Linked DNA regions of Homo sapiens. The protein of the gene in region 5 purifies or fractionates together with the protein of the main gene of each other region. This does not show direct contact. Each region holds a gene or a part of one and is shown on either strand. Other genes may lie near its edges. The genes, in order: SDAD1, NOP58, SLX4, PUS7, NMD3, GFPT1 and HAT1.

The links.
Region 1: the proteins of NMD3 (region 5) and SDAD1 fractionate together in Homo sapiens (co-fractionation; one large-scale study listed by BioGRID). This does not show direct contact.
Region 2: the proteins of NMD3 (region 5) and NOP58 fractionate together in Homo sapiens (co-fractionation; one large-scale study listed by BioGRID). This does not show direct contact.
Region 3: the proteins of NMD3 (region 5) and SLX4 purify together in Homo sapiens (co-immunoprecipitation; one large-scale study listed by IntAct). This does not show direct contact.
Region 4: the proteins of NMD3 (region 5) and PUS7 fractionate together in Homo sapiens (co-fractionation; one large-scale study listed by BioGRID). This does not show direct contact.
Region 6: the proteins of NMD3 (region 5) and GFPT1 fractionate together in Homo sapiens (co-fractionation; one large-scale study listed by BioGRID). This does not show direct contact.
Region 7: the proteins of NMD3 (region 5) and HAT1 purify together in Homo sapiens (affinity purification with mass spectrometry; one large-scale study listed by BioGRID and IntAct). This does not show direct contact.

What each region holds. Positions count from the first base shown.
Region 1 is NC_000004.12:75,980,946-75,984,445, reverse strand, and holds part of SDAD1 (protein SDA1 homolog), read left to right. Parts: intron 1-2,408; coding exon 2,409-2,513; intron 2,514-2,900; exon of another isoform or gene 2,901-2,975; coding exon 2,976-3,074; intron 3,075-3,480; exon of another isoform or gene 3,481-3,500.
Region 2 is NC_000002.12:202,282,763-202,286,262, reverse strand, and holds part of NOP58 (nucleolar protein 58), read right to left. Parts: intron 1,919-3,500; coding exon 1,782-1,918; intron 1-1,781. UniProt on the Homo sapiens protein: Required for the biogenesis of box C/D snoRNAs such as U3, U8 and U14 snoRNAs. Part of the small subunit (SSU) processome, first precursor of the small eukaryotic ribosomal subunit.
Region 3 is NC_000016.10:3,580,681-3,584,143, reverse strand, and holds the end of SLX4 (structure-specific endonuclease subunit SLX4), read left to right. Parts: intron 1-633; coding exon 634-1,047; intron 1,048-1,450; coding exon 1,451-1,802; 3' UTR 1,803-2,963; downstream 2,964-3,463. UniProt on the Homo sapiens protein: Regulatory subunit that interacts with and increases the activity of different structure-specific endonucleases.
Region 4 is NC_000007.14:105,477,272-105,480,771, reverse strand, and holds part of PUS7 (pseudouridylate synthase 7 homolog), read left to right. Parts: intron 1-3,500. UniProt on the Homo sapiens protein: Pseudouridylate synthase that catalyzes pseudouridylation of RNAs.
Region 5 is NC_000003.12:161,224,311-161,227,810, reverse strand, and holds part of NMD3 (60S ribosomal export protein NMD3), read right to left. Parts: intron 2,882-3,500; coding exon 2,747-2,881; intron 565-2,746; coding exon 468-564; intron 1-467. UniProt on the Homo sapiens protein: Acts as an adapter for the XPO1/CRM1-mediated export of the 60S ribosomal subunit.
Region 6 is NC_000002.12:69,380,728-69,384,227, reverse strand, and holds part of GFPT1 (glutamine--fructose-6-phosphate aminotransferase [isomerizing] 1), read left to right. Parts: intron 1-1,144; exon of another isoform or gene 1,145-1,222; coding exon of another isoform or gene 1,223-1,304; intron 1,305-3,500.
Region 7 is NC_000002.12:171,928,961-171,932,460, reverse strand, and holds part of HAT1 (histone acetyltransferase type B catalytic subunit), read right to left. Parts: intron 1-3,500. UniProt on the Homo sapiens protein: Histone acetyltransferase that plays a role in different biological processes including cell cycle progression, glucose metabolism, histone production or DNA damage repair. Coordinates histone production and acetylation via H4 promoter binding.

The DNA.
Region 1 (3,500 bases), on a different chromosome or scaffold from region 5:
CCTGTAATCCCAGCACTTTGGGAGGCCAGGGTGAGAGGATCACTTGAGGCCAGGCGTTTGAGTCCAGCCTGGGCAACATAAAGAGATCCCGTCTCTACAAAAAATAAAAATGAAAAATCAGCTGGGTATGGTGGTGAACGTCTGTGGTCCCAGCTACTTAGGAGGCTGAGGCAGGAGGACCTCTTGAGCCCAGGAGTTTGAGGTGGCAGTGAGCTATGATTGTGCCACTGCAGTCCAGCTTGGGTGACAGAGGGAGACCTAGTCTTTTTTTTTTTTTTTTAAGGTACCAAAACAGATACATAGACCAATAGAATAGAACAGAGGCTTCAGAAATAACGCCACACATCTACAACCACCTGATCTTTGACAAACCTGACAAAAACAAGCAATGGGGAAAGGATTCCCTATTTAATAAAACGTGTTGGGAAAACTGGCTAGCCATATGCAGAAAGCTGAAACTGGACCCCTTCCTTACACCTTGTACAAAAATTAAATCAAGATGGATTAAAGACTTAAACAAGAGTCCTAAAACCATAAAAACCCTAGAAGAAAACCTAGGCAATACCATTCAGGACATAGGCCCGGGCAAGACTTAATGACTAAAACACCAAAAGCAATGGCAACAAAAGCCAAAATTGACAAATGGGATCTAATTAAACTAAAGAGCTTCTGCACAGCAAAAGAAACTATTATCAGAGTGAATAAGCAACCTACAGAATGGGAGAAAATTTTTGCAATCTATCCATCTGACAAAGGGCTAATAGCCAGAATCTACAAGGAACTTAAACAAATTTACAAGAAAAAAAAAACCCCATCAAAAAGTGGGCAAAGGATATGAACAGACATTTCTCAAAAGAAGACATTTATGCGGCCAACAAACAGTGAAAAAAAGCTCATCAGCACTGGTCATTAGAGAAATGCAAATCAAAACTACAATGAGATACCATCTCACGCCAGTTAGAATGGCAATCATTAAAAAGTCAGGAAACAGCAGATGCTGGAGAGGATGTGGAGAAATAGGAACTCTTTTACACTGTTGGTGGGAGTGTAAATTAGTTTAACCATTGTGGAAGACAGTGTGGCAATTCCTCAAGGATCTAGAACCAGAAATACCATTTGACCCAGCCATCCCATTACTGGGTATATACCCAAAGGATTATAAATCATTCTACTGTAAATACACATGTACACATATGTTTATTGCAGCACTATTCACAATAGCAAAGACTTTGAACCAACCCAAATGCCCATCAATGATAGACTAGATAAAGAAAATATGGCACATATATACCATGGAATACTATGCAGCCATAAAAAAGGATGAGTTCATGTCCTTGCAGGGACATGGATGAAGCTGGAAACCATCATTTTCAGAAAACTATCACAAGGACAGAAAACCAAACACCGCATGTTCTCACTCATAAGTGGGAGTTGAACAGTGAGGACACATGGATACAGGAAGGGGAACATCACACATTGGGGCCTGTTGGGGTGGGGGGCTAGGGGAGGGATAGCATTAGGAGAAATACCTAATGTGGATGACAGGTTGATGGGTGCAGCAAACCACCATGGCACATGTATACCTGTGTAACAAACCTGCACATTCTGCACATGTATACCAGAACTTAAAAGTATAATTTTTAAAAAGGGGTGGCAGTGGGGGGGTGGGATTTTGACTGGAGAGCTTCATGTACTTGAGATATAATTTATATTTCTGCCCTGTTATTTTTCTGCTGATTTGAGTGCTCTGCATACATGGATATGGTAGTAGGGGTCATTTATTTTTATTTTTATTTTGTGAGACAGGGCCTCCGTGTTGCCTAGGCTGGAGTGCAGTGGCATGATCATAGCTCACTGCAGTCTCAACCTCCCTGGGCTCAAGTGATCATCCCATTTCAGCCTGTTGAGTAGCTGGAATTACAGGTGCACGCCACCACACCCTGCTAATTTTTGTATTTTTTGTAGAGACAAGGTCTCCCTGTGTTACCCAGTTTGGTCTCGAACTCCTGGGCTCAAGTGATCCTCCCACTTTGGCCTCCCAAAGTGCTGGGATTACAAGTGTGAGCCACTACACCCAGCAGTCGGGATCATTTAGATAGTAACTGGCAGAACAGGGCTACAATCTGAATTTGGGATTCATGCTTCTCTGTTCTTACACCATGCTGCCTAAACTTGTAGTGATAATTCCAAGGAAAAGTTCTTTAGATTATCTGTGATGTGCTCAGGTCTTTAAAAAGCGCACTTTGAAGAATGCAGATAAGGCAAAAGGAGTGTTTTTATATACTTTTGCATTATCTTTTTCTCCATGTGATCGTCAACAGTTTCTACTAAGAATTTCTCTACTGAATGTCTGTACTGAGAAAGTCATGTAATACAATGTGACAAACTTAAATTTTATTTTTCTGCAGTTTCTACAGCAGTATAATCACTACAAATCCAATGTGGAGATTTTCAAATTGCAACCAAATAAACCCAGCAAAGAACTAGCAGAGCTGGTGATGTTTATGGCACAGGTAAGAATATAATTGCTTAAATAAAGACCAGTATTAACACACAGTTTGCTGAATGTTTTTTCACTAATACTCAACCTTATTCCACTCTGGAATGGGAACTTAATTAAAATATTTTTCTAACTTTCCCTTTTTGCAAATTTTATTTTCTCCCTATCATGAGTTAGAGAATGTCACTAGATCTTTTTGCATAACTAACCAGGACAAAACTTTAAGACTATTTTTTTTCTTCAAATTCATCATAAAAGCAGGTACTAAATCATGCCATAAATATTACTAAGACTAGAGAAACCATGATAAATGTTGGAGAAATTAACATGTAGAAGGAAAAGAAGGTTGTTTGGAACCATCTACTTCTATGAAACATAGCCTTTTACTCTCGTTTTGCAGAACATCCTAAATGTATGCATCTGAATTATAGGAGAGAAAGAGAGCAACTTCAGAAGAGCCTTTGCTTTGTTACAGATTAGTCACTGCTACCCAGAGTACCTAAGTAATTTTCCTCAAGAGGTGAAAGATCTTCTCTCCTGCAATCATACCGTATTGGATCCAGATCTGCGAATGGTAGGACCAGTAGTTGGATGAATAAATTGTGCTGTGTTCATGTGTGCTGCGTTCATATATATTTAAATGAGAACAGCCTCTAAGCTAATTATCTTCAGAAAACGTAAATTATAATGTATTATCCTTTCCTAAAAATCCTTCTATGGCTTCTCATTTATACTTAGAGTAAAACGGAAACTTAATAACCTGGCTCAAAAGTGCCTGCATGATCTGCTTCCAGCCTGTGTTTCTGATATCATATTGTTTTCAGCTACACTGTGATCTTTCTATTCTTCCAGCACACTAACCCTACAGGATGCTCTTTAACCTTTTGAGATGATTTCTTCTAGTCATTCAAATCTCATATGCATGTAGAATCCTAATCACAACTTGTCATTTTTATAATGCCTTAAATTAGTAAACTTACCCATTAGACAGTCAGTTTGA
Region 2 (3,500 bases), on a different chromosome or scaffold from region 5:
AAAGTGCTGGGATGTATTACAGGCGTGAGCCACTGCGCCTGGCCTATAGTGTTTCTTTCTCCCTTTTTTTTTTTTTTTTTTGAGATGGAGTCTCACTCTGTCACCCAGGCTGGACTGCAGTGGAGCGATCTCCACTCACTGCAAGCTCTGCCTCCCGGGTTCACGCCATTCTCCTGCCTCAGCCTCCCAAGTAGCTGGGACTACAGGCGCCCGCCACTGTGCCCGGCTAATTTTTTGTATTTTTAGTAGAGACGAGGTTTCACCGTGGTCTCGATCTCCTGACCTTGTGATCTGCCTGCCTTGGCCTCCCAAAGTGTTGGGATTACAGGCGTGAGCCACCGTGCCCAGCCTGTAGTGTTTCTTTTAATATTAGCTTAAAATGTCTTTTGAACTGTGGTAATAATTTTATTAGGATTACTATTTGACAGTACTGATTACAAAGTTGCACAGGTTTTGAGCAACTACCTACCATTATTTTCTTCACAACCCTGTTAACTGTAGTGCAATTCCAAAGTATTAAGCTTTTCATGAACAGATGTATCACAACATAGCAATAATGCCTATTCTAAGGGACTTCTAATGAAATATGATAGGGTTAACATGCAATTAAAAATAGGGAGAAGACTGGGCATGGTGGCTCACCCCTGCAGTCGCGGCACTTTGGGAGGCTAAGGCAAGTGGATCACTTGAGCCTGGGAGTTCCAGCCTGGGCAGCATGGCAAAACCCCGTCTCTACAAAAAGTTAAAAAATCAGCCAGGGATGGTGGCGCACACTTGCAGTCCCAGCTACTTGGGAGGCTGAGGTGGCATTGTTTGAGTCCAGGATGTCCAGGTTGCAGTGAGCCAAGATCGCACCACTGCACCCCAGCCTGAGCAACAGAGTGAGACCCTGACTCAAAAAAAAAAAAAAAAAAAAAAAAATGCCGGGTGTGGTGGCTCATGCCTATAATCCCAGCACTTTGGAAGGCCAAGGCGGATGGATCATTTGAGGTCAGGAGTTCAAGATCAGCCAGGCCAACATGGTGAAAGCCCGTCTCTACTAAAAATACAAAAATTAGTTGGGCAGTAGTGGTGCACGCTTGTAATCCTAGCTACTCGGAGGCTGAGGCAAGAAAATCACTTGAGCCTGGGAGGCAGGGGCTGCAGTGAGCAGAGATCACGCCACTGCACTCCAGTCTGGGCGACAGAGTGAGAATCTGCCTCAAAAAAAACAAAACAAAAACAAAACAAACAAAAAAACACAGAGAGAGACATATTTCTTGCTATGTTGCTCAGGCTAGTCTCAAACTCCTGGTCTCCCAAAGAGTTGGGATTACAGGGGTGAGCCACTGCACCTAGTCCTCTTTGCCTTATTAAAAATCAGAGTAAAGCAATGAAAACACAAATACACACCTATCCCATAAGACCATAGCAGATGAGAGAATTTGGGGGAATACTAAGTAGATGGAGGAGTGGCATGACTTAGCAGAGATAAAGGAGGGAAAGCCCAAGAAACAGGGCATCCAAGATCAGAGTAGTAGAGAATTCCTTTGATGAGGTTTTAAGGTTTTAAGAATCCAGACAATAGAGCCAGACTGCCTGGGTTCAAATCCTGGCTTTACCACTTACCAGCTGTATTGACCTTGGGCTTCAGTTTCATCTGTAAATGAGGATATTACTATCATCTTCTTCATAAGGTTCTGATGTGGTTCAAATGAGCATTTGTAACATTCTTAGAACAGATCTATGTTAAGCGCTTATCAAATAAAAGTAAGTTGACTTTATTTTCCAGTAATTCTCACCTGTGAGCCAATCCAAGACACATAGCTGCCATTTCACGTGGTTCTACCCCAGGGATTAATCCATCCATTTGTGAACGAATTCCTCTCATAAGTTCATTAACAACAGGACTATGGATACAACTGAGATTCAGCTTTTCCTACAAGAACATGAACATCTATATTAAATTAAAAAAAAAAAGACTTTCCTGAAGTTGTTATTATTATTTTTTGAGACACAGTATCACTCTGTCGCCCAGGCTGGAGTGCAGTGGCGCAATCTTGGCTCACTACAACCTCCGCCTCCTGGGTTCAAGAGATTCTCCTGTCTCGGCCTGGGATTATTGCAGGCATGAGCCACCATGCCCAGCTAATTTTGTATTTTTAGTAGAGACGGGGTTTCACCATGTTGTACAGGCTGGTCTCAAACTCCTGACCTCAAGTGATCCGCCCGCCTCATCTTCCCAAAGTGCTGGGATTACAGGCATGAGCCACCGCGCCCAGCCTGAAATTATTTCCTAAATATTAAAGTGGCACTAATTTAAATATACGCATTTCTCAGTTGGACAAGAAGCATAATTTCCAGTGTGTTTGTAGAATACTTGACTGTATCACTGGTGGAAGTAAAAACTGATACAAGCTTCCAGAAGACAGCTTGGCTATATAAATTAAAAGCTATAAAAAGATTAATATAATTTGACCAAGTAGTTGGTTTAAGGAGATCTTTTACTACCTGTTATTTAGCTTCTTTTTAAAATTACAGGTTATGCCAGGCGCGGTGGCTCACGCCTGTAATCCCAGCACTTTGGGAGGCCGAGGCGGGTGGATCACAAGGTCAATAGATCGAGACCATCTTGGCCAACATGATGAAACCCCGTCTCTACTAAAAATACAAAAATTAGCCGGGTGTGGTGGCAGGTGCCTATAGTCCCAGCTACTCGGGAGGCTGAGGCAGGAGAATCACTTCAACCCAGGAGGCGGAGGTTGCAGTGAGCCAAGACTGAGCCAATGCACTTCAGCCTAGCGACAGAGTGAGACTCCGTCTTAAAAAAAAAAAAAAATTACAGGTTGGGCGTGGTGGCACATGCCTGTAATCCTAGCACTTTGGGAGGCCAGGGCGTGTTGGCGGGCGTCTGTAATCCCAGCTACTTGGAAGGCTAAGGCAGGGGAATCCCTTGAACCCGGGAGGCAGAGGTTGCAGTGAGCCGAGATCATGCCACTGCACTCTAGCCAGGGCAACAGAGTGAGACTCTGTCTCAAATAAATGAAATAAAATAAAATAAAATAATTAGCCAGCATGGTGGCATGTGCCTGTAGTCCCAGCTACTGAAGAGGGAGGATTGCTTGAGAACAGGAGGTCAAGTCTGCAGTGAGCTGTGAGACTGCGCCACTGCACTCCCAATTAGCTGGGACTACAGGCGCCTGCCACCACACCCGGTTAATTTTCTGTATTTTCAGTAGAGACAGGGTTTCACTGTGTTAGCCAGGATGGTCTCGATCTGCTGACCTCGTGATACTCCTACCTTGGCCTCCCAAAATGCTGGGATTATTATAGGTGTGAGCCACCGCGCCCCGCCCGAATTGTTCTGCTTTCTGTATTTGGGAGGCTATTTTCCTAGTCTTTCTTTCCACTCTCACATTTTATTTCATCTCCAGCAATACACCCCTACTAAAAGTTTTCTAATAAATATATTTCTAAAAAATATAAGGACCCCATTTTCGTTGGAAAAAAATGTGGCTAGA
Region 3 (3,463 bases), on a different chromosome or scaffold from region 5:
GCGGAGGCCTGATTTTTTTTAAAAGAACATTTAACTCTCACATCCACATGACACTGCTCTTCCACTCGGGCACCCGGGGAAGCTGCTGCTGCCACCATCCCTCAGAACTGGGAGCAGCATATCTTTTGTTTATTTTTTATTTTTGGAGACAGGATCTCACTCTGTTGCCCAGGCTGGAGTAGAGTGATGTGATCTTGGCTCACTGTAGCCTCAGCCTCCCGGGCTTAAGCGATCCTACCTCATCCTCCCTAGTAGCTGGGACTACAGGTGACACCACCACGCCTGGCTAATTTTTGTATTTTTTGTAGAGGCGGGGTCTTGCTATGTTGCCCAGGCTGGCCTTGAACTCCTGAGCTCAAACTGTCCTCCTGCCTCAGCCTCCCAAAGTGCTGGGATTGTAGGCGTGAGCCATTGTGCCTGGCTGGCAATGTTTCTTTTGGAATATTCAGAGTAAGCTTAGTTGGCGCCTAGAATAGACACTAACCTCTGATGCTCACAGAAGTCAGGCATCTATGGTTTGTCACACAAGCCATTCGCTGAATGCATTGGGTATCACTCTTTGCTAAGATAGGGAACGTGGAGTGTGGACCAGCTGTGTGGGTGGGTCCTGAGATCCACCTGTTCCTCCGTCAGGTTTGGAGTCCGCCCTCTGCCTAAACGCCAGATGGTTCTGAAGCTGAAGGAGATATTCCAGTACACTCACCAGACCCTGGACTCAGACTCCGAGGACGAGAGCCAGTCCTCACAGCCGCTGTTGCAGGCGCCTCACTGCCAGACCCTCGCCTCCCAGACCTACAAGCCTTCAAGGGCAGGGGTCCATGCCCAGCAGGAGGCCACCACAGGACCTGGGGCCCATAGGCCCAAGGGACCTGCTAAGACCAAGGGCCCCCGACATCAAAGGAAGCATCATGAAAGCATCACACCCCCAAGCAGGTCGCCCACCAAGGAGGCACCTCCAGGCCTCAATGATGACGCCCAGATCCCAGCCTCTCAAGAATCCGTGGCCACCTCTGTGGATGGCAGTGACAGCTCCTTGAGCTCACAGAGGTAACCGGATGGATGCGATGGGGTCAGTGGCCTCATGTATCCTCTGGCCCGTGGGCGTGAGGGTTGGCACGAGTGAGACCTAATGGCCAATCTTCAAAAACCCCCGTCACCTTCTGGGTTTGACCTGTGGGAAAACCAGGTGGGTTTAGGGGGCTGGTTCCCTGACCCCAGCCCTGCGCAGGCCTCCTGGTTCCTGCCCCACATGCTAGACATTTCTGGCTGGGGCAGGATCCCGCTGGCGTAGCCTGCAGGGATCTCTCAGGCCCGTCCTGCCTTGCTGGGGATCGTGCCACAGGCCAGGCTCCATGGGACCCGTAGACACCTTCCTTCCTTTAAAGAGGCTCATGGTCTCAGGGGCTGGAGAGAAAGGGGTTGCACAACGTCCTGGTCTGGCTCTTTTCAGTTCTTCCTCCTGTGAGTTTGGAGCGGCATTTGAGTCTGCAGGTGAAGAGGAGGGCGAGGGGGAGGTCAGTGCCTCGCAGGCAGCCGTGCAGGCGGCGGACACAGACGAGGCGCTGAGGTGCTACATCCGCTCCAAGCCGGCCCTGTACCAGAAGGTGCTGCTGTACCAGCCCTTTGAGCTGCGGGAGCTGCAGGCAGAGCTGAGGCAGAACGGCCTCCGTGTGTCCTCGCGCAGGCTGTTGGACTTCCTGGACACCCACTGTATCACCTTCACCACTGCCGCCACCCGCAGGGAGAAGCTCCAGGGCAGGAGGCGGCAGCCTCGGGGCAAGAAGAAGGTGGAGCGGAACTGATGGGGCCATCCCGACCCCACCCCAACCTGCCATCAGCAGCCCCCACCCCCGCCATTTGCAGGGAGGACCTGGGACACCCAGCGTGGGTCAGGCCTCCACAGGCATTTCTGGGCCTGGGGACCACATCAGCTCTGCGCTGTGATGATGACCACAGCCCAATCCAGGGCTTCCTCCTCTGGGCTCTGCTTTCTAGGGTGGCATTTGGAGCATGTCACCCACTGGATTTACAGACTCCAGCCCCTTCCTCTGTCCGTGCTCACAGTGTGTCTCCCTTTTTGGTTTTCTTTTTTTTTTTCTTTTTGAGACAGTCGTGCTGTGTCACCTAGGCTGGAGTGCAGTGGCACAATCTCGGCTCACTGCAACCTCCGCCTCCCGGGTTCAAGCAATTCTCCTGCCTCAGCCTCCCAGATAGCTGGGACTACAGGCACACGCTGCCACGCCCAGCTGATTTTTTATATTTTAGTAGAAACGGGGTTTCACCATGTTGCTCAGGCTGGTCACAAACTCCAGAGCTCAGGCAATCCGCCTGCTGCGGCCTCCCAAAGTGCTGGGATCACAGGCGCCAGCCACTGCGCCCGGCCCAGTGTGTCTCCCTTAACCCAAGAGGGCCCTCAGCTGTCCCAGGGGGCAGTGGGCCATCACCAGCTGGCCAGGGCATGGCCTATTCTGCCACATTTGCCACCCTCTGAGCCCACCAGTCCTGGGCACAGCTGCCCTACATGTCTGTCCTGAGATGGACGTCAGGTCCAGCCTGCCCCGGCAGCCCGGGCCCGTCCTCCTCAGCACTCAGGCCAACCCCAGCCACCGCCAGCCTGAGACCAGGTGTCCTGAGGCTCCCTGCACTGCCACAGCCCAGATGCAGTTCTCCTGACCCAGCCGTGCTACCCGGACACTTGTCATTGTTACCAGCAGTCTCCAAACTGGACAGTGCACAAGGGCCCAGAACAACTCTGATGCCACCACAAAACAAACATGTTCACTAGCGGATTCCATTCTTTGGGTTAAAGCTGCCTCCAGCCTCAGGAGCAGTGTGGAGGAAGATGAGGGCCAGGAAAGAAGGAAACCTTGGTTTCTCCATCCTTGTGAATGTCCTCGTCTGTTTCAAATACAGTGCAGTCAGTTTTATATGATGTGCAATAAACCAAAAAGGCTTTATTAAAATCTGGCTGCCACACTCCAGGGAGACCACGAGCGAAACGGGGGACCTGGAGGCACCGTGGCCCCTCAGCCCGTGCCCCACGCCTGCAGAAGTCCCCACCTTGCACCTGCCCTTTACTTTGGAGTAACCTGGGCCTGCTGTCTCCTCATTTCAGTTCCCAGACCAGAGATGCAGATGTTCATCCATTAATCCACACACCCGTATCCAACAGAGCCCTGGCTGGGTGCCAAGCTCCAGCCCCCGCACCTCAAAGTGGGGCCCAAGCACCCCCAGCTGCTGCCTCAGCCGGGAGTTGCTACAAAAGCAGATTCAGGCCCCACCCCACAACTCACCAAGACAGCACATGCCTTTACCATTGCGTCCGGTCCAGTGGAGGAGACAGACGCTGGCCTATCCCAGCCTGGTGGGGAGTCGGGCTCCAGTGGCTTGAAGGGCCGTGTCAGGGACAGCCTCCCAGAAGAGGGGTTTGTGAGCTGCATCTTAGGGCTCAGCAGCATTTAGG
Region 4 (3,500 bases), on a different chromosome or scaffold from region 5:
AGAGTTTCGCCCTTGTTGCCCAGGCTGGAGTGCAATAGCGCAATCTCGGCTCACCGCATCCTCTGCCTCCCAGGTTCAAGTGATTCTCCTGCCTCAGCCTCCTGAGTAGCTGGGTTTACAGGCATGCGCCACCATGACTGGCTAATTTTGCATTTTTAGTAGAGATGGGGTTTCTCCATGTTGGTCAGGCTGGTCTCGAACTCCCAACCTCAGGTGATCCCCCGACCTCAGCCTCCCAAACTGCTGGGATTACAGGCATGAGCCTCCACACCCAGCTATTTTTTTTATTTTTTATTTTTTTGAGATGGAATCTTTGTTGTTCAGGCTGAAGTACAGTGGTGCAATGTTGGCTCACTGCAATCTCCACCTCCCAGGTTCAAGCAATTCTCCTGCCTCGGCATCCCAAGTAGCTGAGATTGCAGGCTTTTGCCACCACATCCAGCTAACTTTGTTGTATTTTTAGTAGTGGCGGGAATTTCACCATGTTGGCCAGGCTGGTCTTGAACTCCTGACCTCAAATGATCCGCCTACCTCAGCCTCCCAAAGTGTTGGGATTACAAGTGTGAGCCACTACGCCCAGCCCTATTTTTATTTTTATTTTGTAACAGGTAAGTCTTGGCTCAGTAAGTGATTCAACAGTAATCTGTTGGGTAACTCAGACCCAGAGTAGCCAGACAGAGATGTCACATTTTCTGATCTGTGTTAACACGTTTATTAAACTTTGATCTGCCCTTCCCTCGCTCTTAATTTTATTTTATTTTTTATTTTTATTTTTTGAGATGAAGTCTTGCTGTTGCCCAGGCTGGAGTGCAGTGGTGCCATCTCCGCTCACTGCAACCTCCACCTCCCAGGTTCAAGTGATTCTCCTGCCTCAGCCTCCCACGTAACTGGGATTGCAGGCATGCACCACCTCACCCAGCTAATTTTTGTATTTTTAGTAGAGCCGAGGTTTTGTCATGTTGGCCAGGCTGGTCTCGAACTCATGACCTCCAGTGATCTGCCCGTCTTGGCCTCCCTAAGTGCTGGGATTACAGGCATGAGCCACTGTGCCTGGGCCCCTTCCCTCACTCTTTAAAGAATGTAATAAATGATAAAATTAGTGACATGGAATTTAAGAATTGTCATTTACTTTTAAACAATTAAGAACCCCTCTAGGGTAACCTACAGTGGGAATCCCATCAATAAATAGTTGGGTTCCTAAATCTACTTCTGGAATCCTGTTGCCCAGCAGAGACTCTGTTACATAAACTAATTATTCGCGTGGGAGTTAGAATTGTGGTAGTTACAAGCTGGAAGTTATCTAAGCGTCCATGTTCTTCCTTGTCTTTCAGACCCTTCATGTTAGCAAACTTAGGCTTTGAGAGGTCTGCCTGAACTCATCAATTGCTTGGCTTTAGTTTGGGAGTAGAGTTTTCCGGGCTTCCAGTCCATTGTTTCAGCATCTAAACTATGAAGTTGCATTCATTTTTGTGATTTTAAAAGCGCAAAATGATAAAAATCTATATTTCCTCTGCCTCTTTGAGGAGGTTAAAAAGCTCAGGTGAAAACAGACTTGAGTTCTGAGGCTTAAATTACTCATCTGTAGAATGGAGATAATAATACCAATTCACAGAATGGTGAAAATGAAGTGAGATGATGTTTATGCTACATCTATTTTTATGCCTAGAATATAGTGATTGCTAATATGTTTTCAACCTTGCTAATGGTCAGAGGACATTGATAAAATAGTAAAAATGCTAATTGTATTATGGGACAGAATAAGGGAGCACTGTATCAACCTGTAAATTTGTAATTAATTTGGCAGAAGGACAGCCATGGAATCCTATACGTTGTGTATGCCAAAGATAGTGTAAATAAATATAAGTAATTAAAATGAGGTCAAATTTATCCCACAACAAAAATTACATAGCGTGACCAAAGGTCAGTACGGTCAGCTCAAAATTCCAAATCATTCATTTTCACAACATAAGAATATTTCCTGCTTTCAAGGAAACGCACTGTTAACACCATAGAATTTCCTGAGGGAAAAAACAGACTTTCAGTTTATATTGTATAGGTGGAGAAATGACTTGTATCCAAAATATTAAAAGCTCTTACAACTCAAGAACAGAAAGACAACGCATTCTAAAACTTAGCAAAGGGTCTGAACAGACCTTTCTTTAAATAATGTAATCAAATGGCCAATAAGCACACAAAAAGATGCTTATCACTAATCTTTAGGAAATGCAAATCAAAACCACAGTGAGATGCCACTTCTTACCCACTAGGATGGCTAAAATAAAAAAGGCAGAGAATAACAAGTGTTAGGATTAGAGAAATTGGAACCCTTATACATTCCTGGTGGAAATGTAAAATGGTATAACGATTTTGGAAAATAGTCTGACAGTTCCTCAAAAGGTTATAAAGTTAGCCTATGACCCAGGCATTTCTAGGTATATACTGAGGACAACTGAAAATCATATGTTCACACAAAAGTTTATACAGATGTTCATAGCAGCCAAAAGACTGGAAACAACCCAAATGTCCACCTACTGATGAATGGATAAACAAAATATACAATGTAATATACAATAATATACAGTGGAATATTACTTAGCAATAAAAAGGAATGAAGTACTGATACATTCTGCAACGTGAATGAACCTTGAAAACATTGCTAAGTAGGCAGGGCACAGGGGCTCATGCCTGTAATCCCAACAATTTAAGAGGCCAAGGCGGCAGGATCACTTGAGGCCAGGAGTTCAAGACCAGCCTGGGCACCATAGCAAGGCCCCATCTCTACAAAATAAAATTTTTAAAAAATTAGCTGAGTGTGCTGCTGCCTGGCTTTGGTCCTAGCTACTCAGGAGGCTGAGGCAGGAGGATCACTGAAGCCCAGGAGTTTGAGGATGCAGTGAACAGTGTACCACCACTGCACTGTGGCCTAGATGACAGAGCAAGACCCTGCCTGTGAATGAATGAATGAATCAATTTCTATGAAATTTCCAATGTGAGCAAATCTATAGAAAAAGAGCTGGAACAGGACCAATGGGGAGTGACTACTAATGGGACAGGATTTTTTTTTGGTGGGGGTGGGTAATAAAAATGTTGTAAAATTGTGTAATGCTCCACAGTTCTTTAAAAATACTAAAAGCCATTGAATTGTACACTTACATGGGTGAATTATATGTTATGTGAATTATTGAATAACTCAGCAAAAACTTTGAAAAAAAGAAAGTGAGCCAGGCACAGTGGCTCACGCCCGTAATCCCAGCCCTTTGGGAGGCCGAGGTGGGTGGCGGATTGCTTGAGGTCGGGAGTTCAAGACCAGCCTGGCCAACATAGTGAAATCCCGCCTCTACTAAAAATACAAAAATTATCTGAGTGTGGTGGCATGAACACCTGTAATCCCAGCTACTCGGGAGGCTGAGGCAGGAGAATTGCTTTAGCCCGGGAGGCAGAGGTTGAAGTGACCCAAGATTGTACCACTGCACTCCAGCCTGGGCGACAGAGTGAAACTG
Region 5 (3,500 bases):
CTTTAAAAAGTGTTTGTAGTGGGGTGCTACTGGCAACAATAGTAACATTTAATAGTTACTTTCGAGGCCAGCATGGTGGCTCACGCCTGTAATCCCAGCACTTTGGGAGGCCGAGGCAGGCAGATCACGAGGTCAGGAGTTCGAGACCAATCTGGCCAACATAGTGAAACCCTGTCTCTACTAAAAATACAAAAAATTAGCCAGATGTGGTGGTGTGCGCCTATAATCCCAGCTACTTGGGAGGCTGAGGCAGGAGAATCGTGTGAACCCGGGAGGCAGAGGTTGCAGTGAGCCGAGATCACACCATTGTACTCTAGCCTAGCCCAGGTGACAGTTCAAGACCCCACCTCAAAAAAAAAAAAAAAAAAAAAAATTCCTTTTGAAAAACCTACTCACAAGAATTTTCTGAAAATGAGACCTTTAATGAAAACATACCTATGAATACTGATTTTAGCTGTTTAACTTACCTTACTCAGAGGGGCTTTGATTTTTTTCAAGCACAAAGCAAGAAGTTCCCTGGATTCTAAAGCACACTGTATCCAAGTTCCTGGTGGTTGAAAATACCTAAAAGAGAAGATAACATACTGAAATCCAACATCTGTCAGGAAACACAGAAATTTCCATCTGAATACACAGATATAACCCAAATTATTAACCAGGCATAATAAAACCCAAGGATGATATGAAGCACTTAACTCAAACATATTTTAATGGTTCCAAAACTTTCAACTAGACTAGCAGCTTTAATTAAAAAGGTAAAATTCTGACTGAGAAAGTCAATCTGAAATAACCTACTAAAGTGATCTTATTACTTTAATCACCAAATCACCACTAAAATGTCCAAGAGTCTCTTAAAGCTATGCTCTGAAAAACAGGTGAGAATCATCTCAAAATGGCATTAAAATGGTTTATTATGTACTTCTAAAATGCCTGAGAACTGCTTATTTTTCACAAAAAAAAGGTACATTAGTACCTCACAACACTATAAATCAGCAATAGTTCAGTCTATTCATCTACATTTCAAGTCCTTTTCAAATTGTAAATTGTAAAACAACATTTAAAATCTTGGGTAAAACCAGACTAAAACAAAACTTAAATCTCTTACATATGTGCTTTAAGGTTTTTAGTCCTGCCTACCCAGGACTTAGCACTATGCCACATACATCTTATAGTAGGTGTTCAATAAATGCTTGCTAAATATAAAATACTTCCAAACATGTTATGTGAATGTCTTTTTGCCATACTTGTTACATAACAGAAAGTTTTGACTTTCACTTTTCAAGGTTCAATCAAAAACATTACACAGGTCTCCCTTTGTTTATAAGTACATATTTATTTCGTATTTTTTTTTCCTTTTTTCTTTTGAGACAGAGTCTCGCTCCATCCCCCAGGATGGAGTGCAGTGTATGATCTCGGCTCACTGCAACCTCTGCCTCTCGGGTTCAAGCGATTCTCCTGCCTCTCGAGTAGCTAGGATTACATGCGTGCCCCACCACGCCTGGCTAATTTTTGTATTTTTAGTAGAGACAGGGTTTCACCATGTTGGCCAGTCTGGTCTCGAACTCCTGACCTCAGGTGATCCACCCGCCTCAGCCTCCTCAAGTGCTTGGATTACAGGCGTGAGCCACCAAGCCTGGCCTATGAGTAAACGTTTAGAGTTAGAAAGGGCTTCACATATCACCTAATAAAACCCTTCATTCTGATGAGGAAATTGAGGCCCAGAGATGATAAACAGCTAAGAGTTTCAAACAGCTAGTTTGTGAGGAAGCCAAGACAAACTAAGTCTGTTTAGTTCTTTATCAGTACTTTTCTAACTCCACCAGGCTTTTAATAGCAAATATTTATAAAAGATTAAGCCTCACACTTGCTAAGCTTATACACTGTAAACTCCCTGAAACAGTACACAGTTTCATGTGTTTGTGTATATATATGTATATATACACACACACACATATATATTTTTACATATATACACACACACACACATATATATACATGTATGTAAATATTTTGGGGAAGAGATACAGTTTTCAAATTCTCAAAGGAGTCCATGAACCACCCCTCTAGAGATACACACTCAAAAAGTTAGCGTCTTAATCCATTTTGGAAATAACAGGCATACACTTTTACACTCATTAGGCAGTTTTGTGTTACTCAATGGCCTAATAGATGTAAGTTGTTTATGCTGACAAAGAAAATCAAGAGGAATGAAACATTAACATTCAGAAGAAGTCTTCTTCCTTCAAATCCAATCTTTATTTCAGACCATTCCAGATATAATTTATTGAGCTTCTTTTCCATCAACAATAGTTATTTTAATTACACGTGAATGTTATGAGTTTTTAAAACATATTACTAAATTACTCCAAACATAAGCTTTTTATCATACATGGCTTCTAATAACTAAAGAAAAAAAAACCTCATAATAACAATATGTCCTCAATAATCTGCTCTCACCCTTACAAACATCAACTCCTATTAACTATATACATCAAATCTATTAGATCCTTTAACAGAAGAACAGATTCAAATACATTTACACTATCTTTACCAGATTAGAAGGACACACTAGAAAAGTACACTATAAAATTGCAAATTCTAAAATCTTTGGCGACACCAACAGAAAATTTAAACCTTAATTGCATGCACTTTACTCCATATACCTTCGTGTAATCTCAGCATATCTCGGTGGTTCTCTAAATGTAAATTCCAACTTTAAAAAGAGCAAAATTGTACCGCACTGTACCTTTGACATTGTTTGCAGAACGAAATCGAGACTTGTTTCGGAATACCTTGGCTGATGTCCACTTTACTTCGCAAACAGGCCACACAAATATTGGCAGGATTTGGACTTATCGGAACACCACACTCACAGCACAAGCTTTAATAAATAAAGGATAAATTTTTCACATTAGATTTTTAAAATACACTAAATTTTTTTTTAGATGCCAAACAAACAAAAGCCTTCAAGTTAGGCCACAGCATCTTTGCCCTTTTCAAAAAAATAACAGAAACAAAGCAACCTGGGCCAGCCAGTGGCTCACACCTGTAATTCCAGCACTTTGGGAGGCTGAGGCGGGTAGATCACCTGAGATAAGGAGTTCAAGACCAGCCTCGCCAACATGGTGAAACCCCATCTCTACTAAAAATACAAAAATTAGCCAGGCATGGTGGCGCACGCCTGTAATCCCAGCTACTTGGGAGGCTGAGGCATGCATATCAAACCCAGGAGGTGGAAGTTGCAGTGAGCCAGATCACGCCACTGCACTCCAGCCTGGGTGACAGACCAAGACAATGTCTCAAAAAAAAGAAACAAAAAAAAGAAACAAAGCAATCTTCAAAGATGCAGTAGATAAAGAATAACCCTGTAATACAGGGGCAAAAACACCAAAAATGGCTATAATTCTAAAAATCCTCAATATAAGGCCGATGTCCTAAAGGTTCTAGAAGGTCAGTACTGTCCAACAGAATTTCATGCCACGACAGAAATGTTCTATTCT
Region 6 (3,500 bases), on a different chromosome or scaffold from region 5:
CGTGGTAATGTTTTGTTTTGTTTTTTGATTGGAGGATTTCTTGGAATCTTTAATGTATTAATAATAAGCATTGAGAATCTCCCAGAGAAGAATAGTGTGTCTATTTTCCAAATTTATTTTATCTTCCTTTTTCTTGGTAGTTTGGAATATACTTTGTCCTTTTTATTTGCATTATTTTTGGTTTTGCTGAGTGTCAAGTCACTTAAGCTATCCCTAGCTTTTAACAGATTTTGCTATTGTTTTTATAAATGTGAAGTTATACCCTTCTGATTCGACGGTGTATATAAAATGGAATTTTGGGGATGGGCGCGGTGGCTCACGCCTGCAATCCCAGCACTTTGGGAGGCTGAGGTGGGTGGATCACCTGAGGTCAGGAGTTTGAGACCAGCCTGACCAACATGGTGAAACCCTGTCTCTACTAAAAATCCAAAAAAATTAGCCGGGCGTAGTGGCGCATGCCTGTAATCCTAGTTACTCGGAAGCCCGAGGCAGGAGAATCTCTTGAACCCAGGAGGTGGAGGTTGCAGTGAGCTGAGATAGTGCCATTCTACTCCAGCCTGGGCGACAAGAGTGAGAGACTGTCTCAAAATAAATAAATAAATAAGTAAATAAATAAATAAATAAATGGAATGTTTGCAAATGAGATCCTTTTTAAAAGCAGTAAAGGAACTTGCAATTTTAAAGTATCCTAAAATGAATTTTTCAAAAGTTTTTTGTAATTATACTGTCTAATGGCTTTGGAGATAATTGAGGGATGCTGAGATTGGCTGCTAGGATTGGTCATAAAACCAGTACTATTAACATATCCTTACATATACTGGATATGAAGAAGTTGTGAGAGAAAATAATTGCTTAATAAGCATTTCTTCAATTGTCCCCTGGAAATGGAGGTTAATAGGTTCTGGTAATGAGCAGTAGAAGGCGGGAAAGGGTTTTGTAACACAAGTTTGGGAAATTCTGCTCTTGGAGATTCACAATTAGCAAGATTAAAGGTTCCAGAAAGTTCTAAATATATACCTAACTTTAACCAGGTAGTTCTTAAACCTTTAATTATGAAACCTTTCTTTACTTCATTCCTTTTTAGCATCCGGTGAAATAGTGTTCTGTTTCTGTGGTTTGAGAATTTTTTGACCGTATATTTCAGGTGCCTAGAAAGTGTTAGAAGATACTTGCAGGTATTTGAAATGATGGCTTTATACTTGGCACTCTGCCCTTTGCAGAGATGACTAAAATAAGAGAGTTGCCTTCAAGAAATTGCTGCCTGATCAGAGGAAAGAAAATGAATGCACATGCAACAGCTTCAGGTGAAAATACACAGTCCTTGTTCATTGCCATGTCATAGACCACAAGTAGAATGAGTAGAAATTTAGAGACTGGAGAGCTCTGGGGTTTGGGTTTCTGTGTTAGGTTCAGGAATGTTCTGGGTGATGGGGCAGGACTTTTACTCAACTTGTAGAGTATTAGTATACTGTGAGAGGTAATCATTAATGGCATATGTTAACCGTCAGTGAATGGAGGCGGAAATAGTTTGAGAACTACTACCAGATGAAGGAGGAAATAGAAGTGCCAGGAAAACAGACCAAGGAACAGTGGTTAAAGGCAGAAGAGTTCCAAAGTAGTATATTGCCTTGAACAGAGTCTATAAAAGTAGAAAAAGGTCATTCATATGTAATACTGCAGAGAAGTTAATTGGATATGGTTATGAAGAAATTATTAGAGAAATTGCATATGTCAAGGCAGAAGGGTCTCAGTTTGTGTTTAGGAGGAGGGCTGCAAGTAATATGAAAAAGAAGAGGATTTTGGGATTGAGGTCCCCTGGGAGTGTTGAGAAGTTGAATTCTAGAGCTGTGGTTCCTGACCTACAAGCCCTGAAGTTGTTACAGGGTGTTCATTGCTTATTCATATGCTTATAACTTTGTCTGTAAGTTGAATAAAGATTGTTCTAGATCATTGAATAATAAAAATTTAACCCATTGTTGTGAAGGAGCCTCAGAATATTTTGATGTTAACAAAAGAGTTCTGTATTTACAAAGTTGGAGAAACACTCATCAAGAGTTAGGAGTAAGGCCCAGTGTGGGGTTCCCTCTGGTAATACCAGCATTTTGGGAGGCTGAGGTGGGCGAATCACTTGAGGTCAGGAGTTTGAGACCAGCCTGGCCAACATAGCGAAGCCCCATCTCTACTAAAAATACAAAAATTAGCCAGCTGTTGTGGTACGCACCTGTAATCCCAGCTACTTGGGAGGCTAAGGGAGGAGAAGTGCTTGGACCTGGGAGGTGAAGGTTGCAGTGAGCTGAGAACACGCCACTGTACCCCAGCCTGGGTGACTGAGTGACACTCTGTCTCAATTAAAAAAAAAAAAAAGAGTTATAAGTAGCCAGTGTTTTGGCTTACACCTGTAATCCCAGCCACTCAGGAAGCTGAGGCAGGAGGATTGCTTGACGCTAGGAGTTCAAGATCAGCCCGGGCAACATAGTGAGATCCCATCTCTATTAAAAAAAAAAAAATTAGCCAGGCATGGTGGTGCATACCTGTAGTCCAGTCTACTTAGAAGACTGAGGTGGGAGGATTGAGTCCAGGAGTTTGAGGCTGCAGTGAGCTATGATTGTGCTGCTGCACTCCAGCCTGGGTACTGGGTGACAGAGCAGGACTGTTAAAAAAAAAAAAAAAAGTTACAAGTAGGGGAGAGGCTAGCTTCAGAGAGTAGTATGTGTAATATGTCTCTCTTGAGATTACAAGGAAGGATGAGAAGTATTTATATATTGTTAAACTGTTGAAAAGAAGATGGGTGAGGGGCAGTGACTCATGCTTGTGAACTCAGCATTTTGGGAGGCTGAGGTGGGAGGATCACTTGAGGCTTGGAGTTTGATACCAGCCCGGACAGCATATTGAGACCTTGTCTCTATATTTTAAAAACAAAAAAAGAAAATGAAGACTTTAATTCTGGCCAGGCGCAGTGGCTCACGCCTATAATCCCAGCACTTTGGGAGGCCGAGGCGGGCAGATCACCTGAGGTCAGGAGTTCGAGACCAGCCTGGCCAGCGTGGTGAAACCCTGTCACTGCTAAAAATACAAAAATTAGCCAGGCGTGGTAACACACGCCTGTAATCCCAGCTGCTGCTCAAGAGGCTGAGGCGGGAGAATCGCTTGAACTCAGGAGGTGGAGGTTGCAGTGAGCTGAGATAGCGCCACTGCCCTCCAGCCTGGGTGACAGAACGAGACTCTGTCTAAAAAAAAAAAAGACTTTAATTCTATAAAGTAAGAATCTACCAAAAATGAAAAAGAAGCTGGGAAGAGAAAATGAGGATTTGAGAGTAGTATGTAGCTTAGACTCTAAAATAATATCTGGGAGAAGTTTGAAAGTTAAGCAAGTGATGAATTAATAGGATTGGTCAGCAGTTCGGAGGGCCCATCCGAAAGTGGACCGAAATGGATAGGATAGATGAGTTCTCCTTGGCTGTCATAGTTCAGTGTAGAGATGCTCAGAGACTAGGAGTCAG
Region 7 (3,500 bases), on a different chromosome or scaffold from region 5:
TCAGAACAGTATTAAATCTATTTATTAGATGTATAGTTAAAAACCTTCCAACAAAGAAAACTCAAGGCACATAAAACTTCACTGGTGAATGCTACTGAACATTTAAAGGAATAATGCAGTCTTATACAAATTCTTCCAGAAGATAGAGAAGAAACAGTTCCCAACTCATTTTATGAGGCCAGGAAACCTTGATACCAAAATCAAGCAAAGACGTATGAAAAAAGAAACCATTACCTGTCATGAACAAAGAGTCTTAACAAAACATTGCCAAGTCAAATCTAGCAAAGCAGAAAAAGGATAATATACTGGCATGCAAGGCTAATTTAACACTTAAAACCTCATCAATGTAATTCACCACATTATCAGAATTAAAGGAGAAAAATCTTATGATTATCTTGATAAAGAAAAAGCATTAGAAGGTAACACTTTCATAATAAAAACTCTCACCAAACTAGGAATAGAAGGAAACTTCCTCAACCTGATAAAGGGCACATATGAAAAACCTACAGCTAACATCATAGTGAATGGTGAAAGGCTCAAAATTTTCCTTCTTCAATTGGGAATAAGGCAAGGATGTCTACTCTATCACTTCCATTTGACATTGTAATAGAGGTTCTGGCCAGTGCAGTAAGGCAAGAAAATGAAACACAAGTGGCTCTCCACATATGCAGGTTCCACATCCACTGATTCAACCAATTACGGATCAACATGAGATTGGCTGAATCCTCAAACACAGAATCTGCAGATACAAAGAGCTGACTGTACTATATGGCTGTTTTTCCCCCCCGAGACACAGTCTTGCTTTGTCGCCCAGGCTGGAGTGCAGTGGCACAATCTCGGCTCACTGCAACCTCCACCTCCTGGGCTCAAGCAATTCTCCTGCCTCAGCCTCCCAAGTAGCTGGGATTACAGGTGTGTGCCATCACGCCCAGCTAATTTTTGTATTTTTAGTAGAGACGGAATTTCACCATGTTGACCAGGCTTGTCTTCTCGAACTCTTGCCTCAGCCTCCCAAAGTGCTGGTATTACAGGCGTGAGCCACCATGCCCGGCTATATGGCTATCTATCTATCAAGACAGGGTCTCACTCTGTCACTCACACTGGAGTGCAGTGGCACAATCACAGCTCACTGCAGCCTAGAACTCTTGGGCTCAGGCAGATCCTCCCACCTCAGCCTCCTGAGTAGCAACTACAGATGCACACCATCATGCCTGGCTAATTCTTGTATTTTTTGTAGAGATGGGGTTCTGCCATGTTGCTCAGGCTGGTCTCAAACTCCTGGGCTCAAGCAATCTGCCTGCCTCAACCTCCCAAAGTGCTAGATTACAGATGTGAGCCACCATGCCCAGCCACACTATGGCATTTTGTATAATGGACCGGATCATCGGCAGATTTTGGTATTCACGGGGGATCGTGGAACCAAATCCCTGAAGATACCAATGGACAACTGTATAAGGCAAAGAAAAACTGTGACTTTCTTCATTAACAGGTAATGTTTGTGTGCAGGAAATCTGAAATAATCTACATCTAAAAAAAAAAATCCTATAGCTGGGTGTGGTGGCTTATGTCTGCAACCCTAGCACTTTGGGAAGCTGAGGCAAGAGGATTGCTTGAGCCCAGGAGTTCAAGACCAGCATGGGCAATATAGTGAGGCCCTGTCCCTAGAAAAAAAAAAAAATTTTGCCAAGCATGGTGGCACGCACCTATAGTCCCAGCTATTCAGGAGGCTGAGGTGGGAGGTTCGCTTGAGCCTGGGAAGTCAAGGCTATAGTGAGCCACAATCACGCCACTCTACTCCAGCCTTGGCAATGGAGTGAGCCACTCTCTCAGAAAAAGCCCAGAATACAAAAAACTACAATAATAAGTGAATTTAGCAAGGTTGCAGAATACAAAACAATTACACAAACTGTGCCATTGTGTGTCCATGCATATGCACATGCACACACATAAAACAAGCAATTGGAAGAGAAAATGTTTAAAGTATATCATTTTTAGGTCAGGCACAGTGGCTCACATCTGTAATAGCACTTTGGGAGGCCTAGGTGGGCAGATCACTCGAACCCAGAAGTTCAAGACCAGTCTGGGTAACAAGGCGAAACCCTGTCTCTACAAAAAATACAAAAATTAGCCAGGCATGGTGGTGTATGCGGAGTCCCAGCTACTCGGGAAGCTGTGGTAAGAGGATCACTTGAGCTCGGAGGCAGAGGTTGCAGTGAGTGGAGATCACGCTACTGCACTCCATCCTCGGTGACAAAGTGAGAACATGTCACACATACAAAAATAAATAAATAAAAAAGTATACCATTTTTAAGAGCATCAAAAATCAAAAGATGTAGATTTACTCAGATAAATTTAACAAAATACATGCAAGACTGAAAACCTGAAACATTTCTAGAATACAGAAATACATCATGTTCATATACTGGAAGGCTCAATGTTATTAAGATAGCAATTCTCCCCACATTCAATTTTAGATTCAATGTAATCTTAAGATTAGTCAGAACTTTTTAAATAGAAATTAACCACCTGATTCCAAAATGTATACAGAAATAAGGTCAAGAATAATCGAAACAATCTTTAAAAAATAAAGATGTGGGACTCACACTACCAGGAATCAATAGAAAGTTACACTAATCCAGACAGTACGATATTGACAGAAAAACAGACAATGAATGAGAAAAGTCCAGATGTAGATCCACACGTGTAAGTTCAATATTTTTTTGTTAAAAACGCACCAAGGCATTCACACAAATTATACTGAAACAAGTGGATATCCACATGGAACAACAAACCTTAATCCCTTTCCTCATATTGGACATGAAAAATAACATGAGATGGATCATGGACATAATTTTAATAAGCTAAAACTAAAAACCTTCCAGAAGAAAACATTAGGAGAGCTTCATGATCTCCTTGGGGTAGACAAAGATATTAGGCATGAACCAGAAAACACTAATAGAAATTTTTAAAATTAATAAACTGGACATGATTAAAACTAAAAACTTCCAGTTATACAAAAAAAGTTGAGAATATGAACAGGCAAACCACAAACTGAGAGAAAAATGTGCACAAAACATGTAATCTGCATAAAGGACTCATCCAGAATATGTAGGTAAATAACACCTACAACTAATAACAAAAAGACAAATAACCTAATTTTAAAATGGGCAAAAGATGTGAATACATGAGTCCAAAAGGAGATAGTCGATAACCACATTAAAAAAACAATCCTTAATAGCATTAGTTATGAGGGAAAAGACAATTAAAACCTATTTAATCTTTACAACCACTATGAAGTACTATTAACAAAGAAATACTACTATAAACCCAGTAGAATGCCTAAAACTTTAAAAACTGACAACATAAAATGTTGGTGAGGATATGGAATAACGAAAATTCTAATACACTGTTGATGTGAGTATAAAAGTACTTTGGAAGTCAGTCTGGCCAAGTATCCCATAAAGTTAAACATACAAATACCCTATTGACCCAGCAAATCC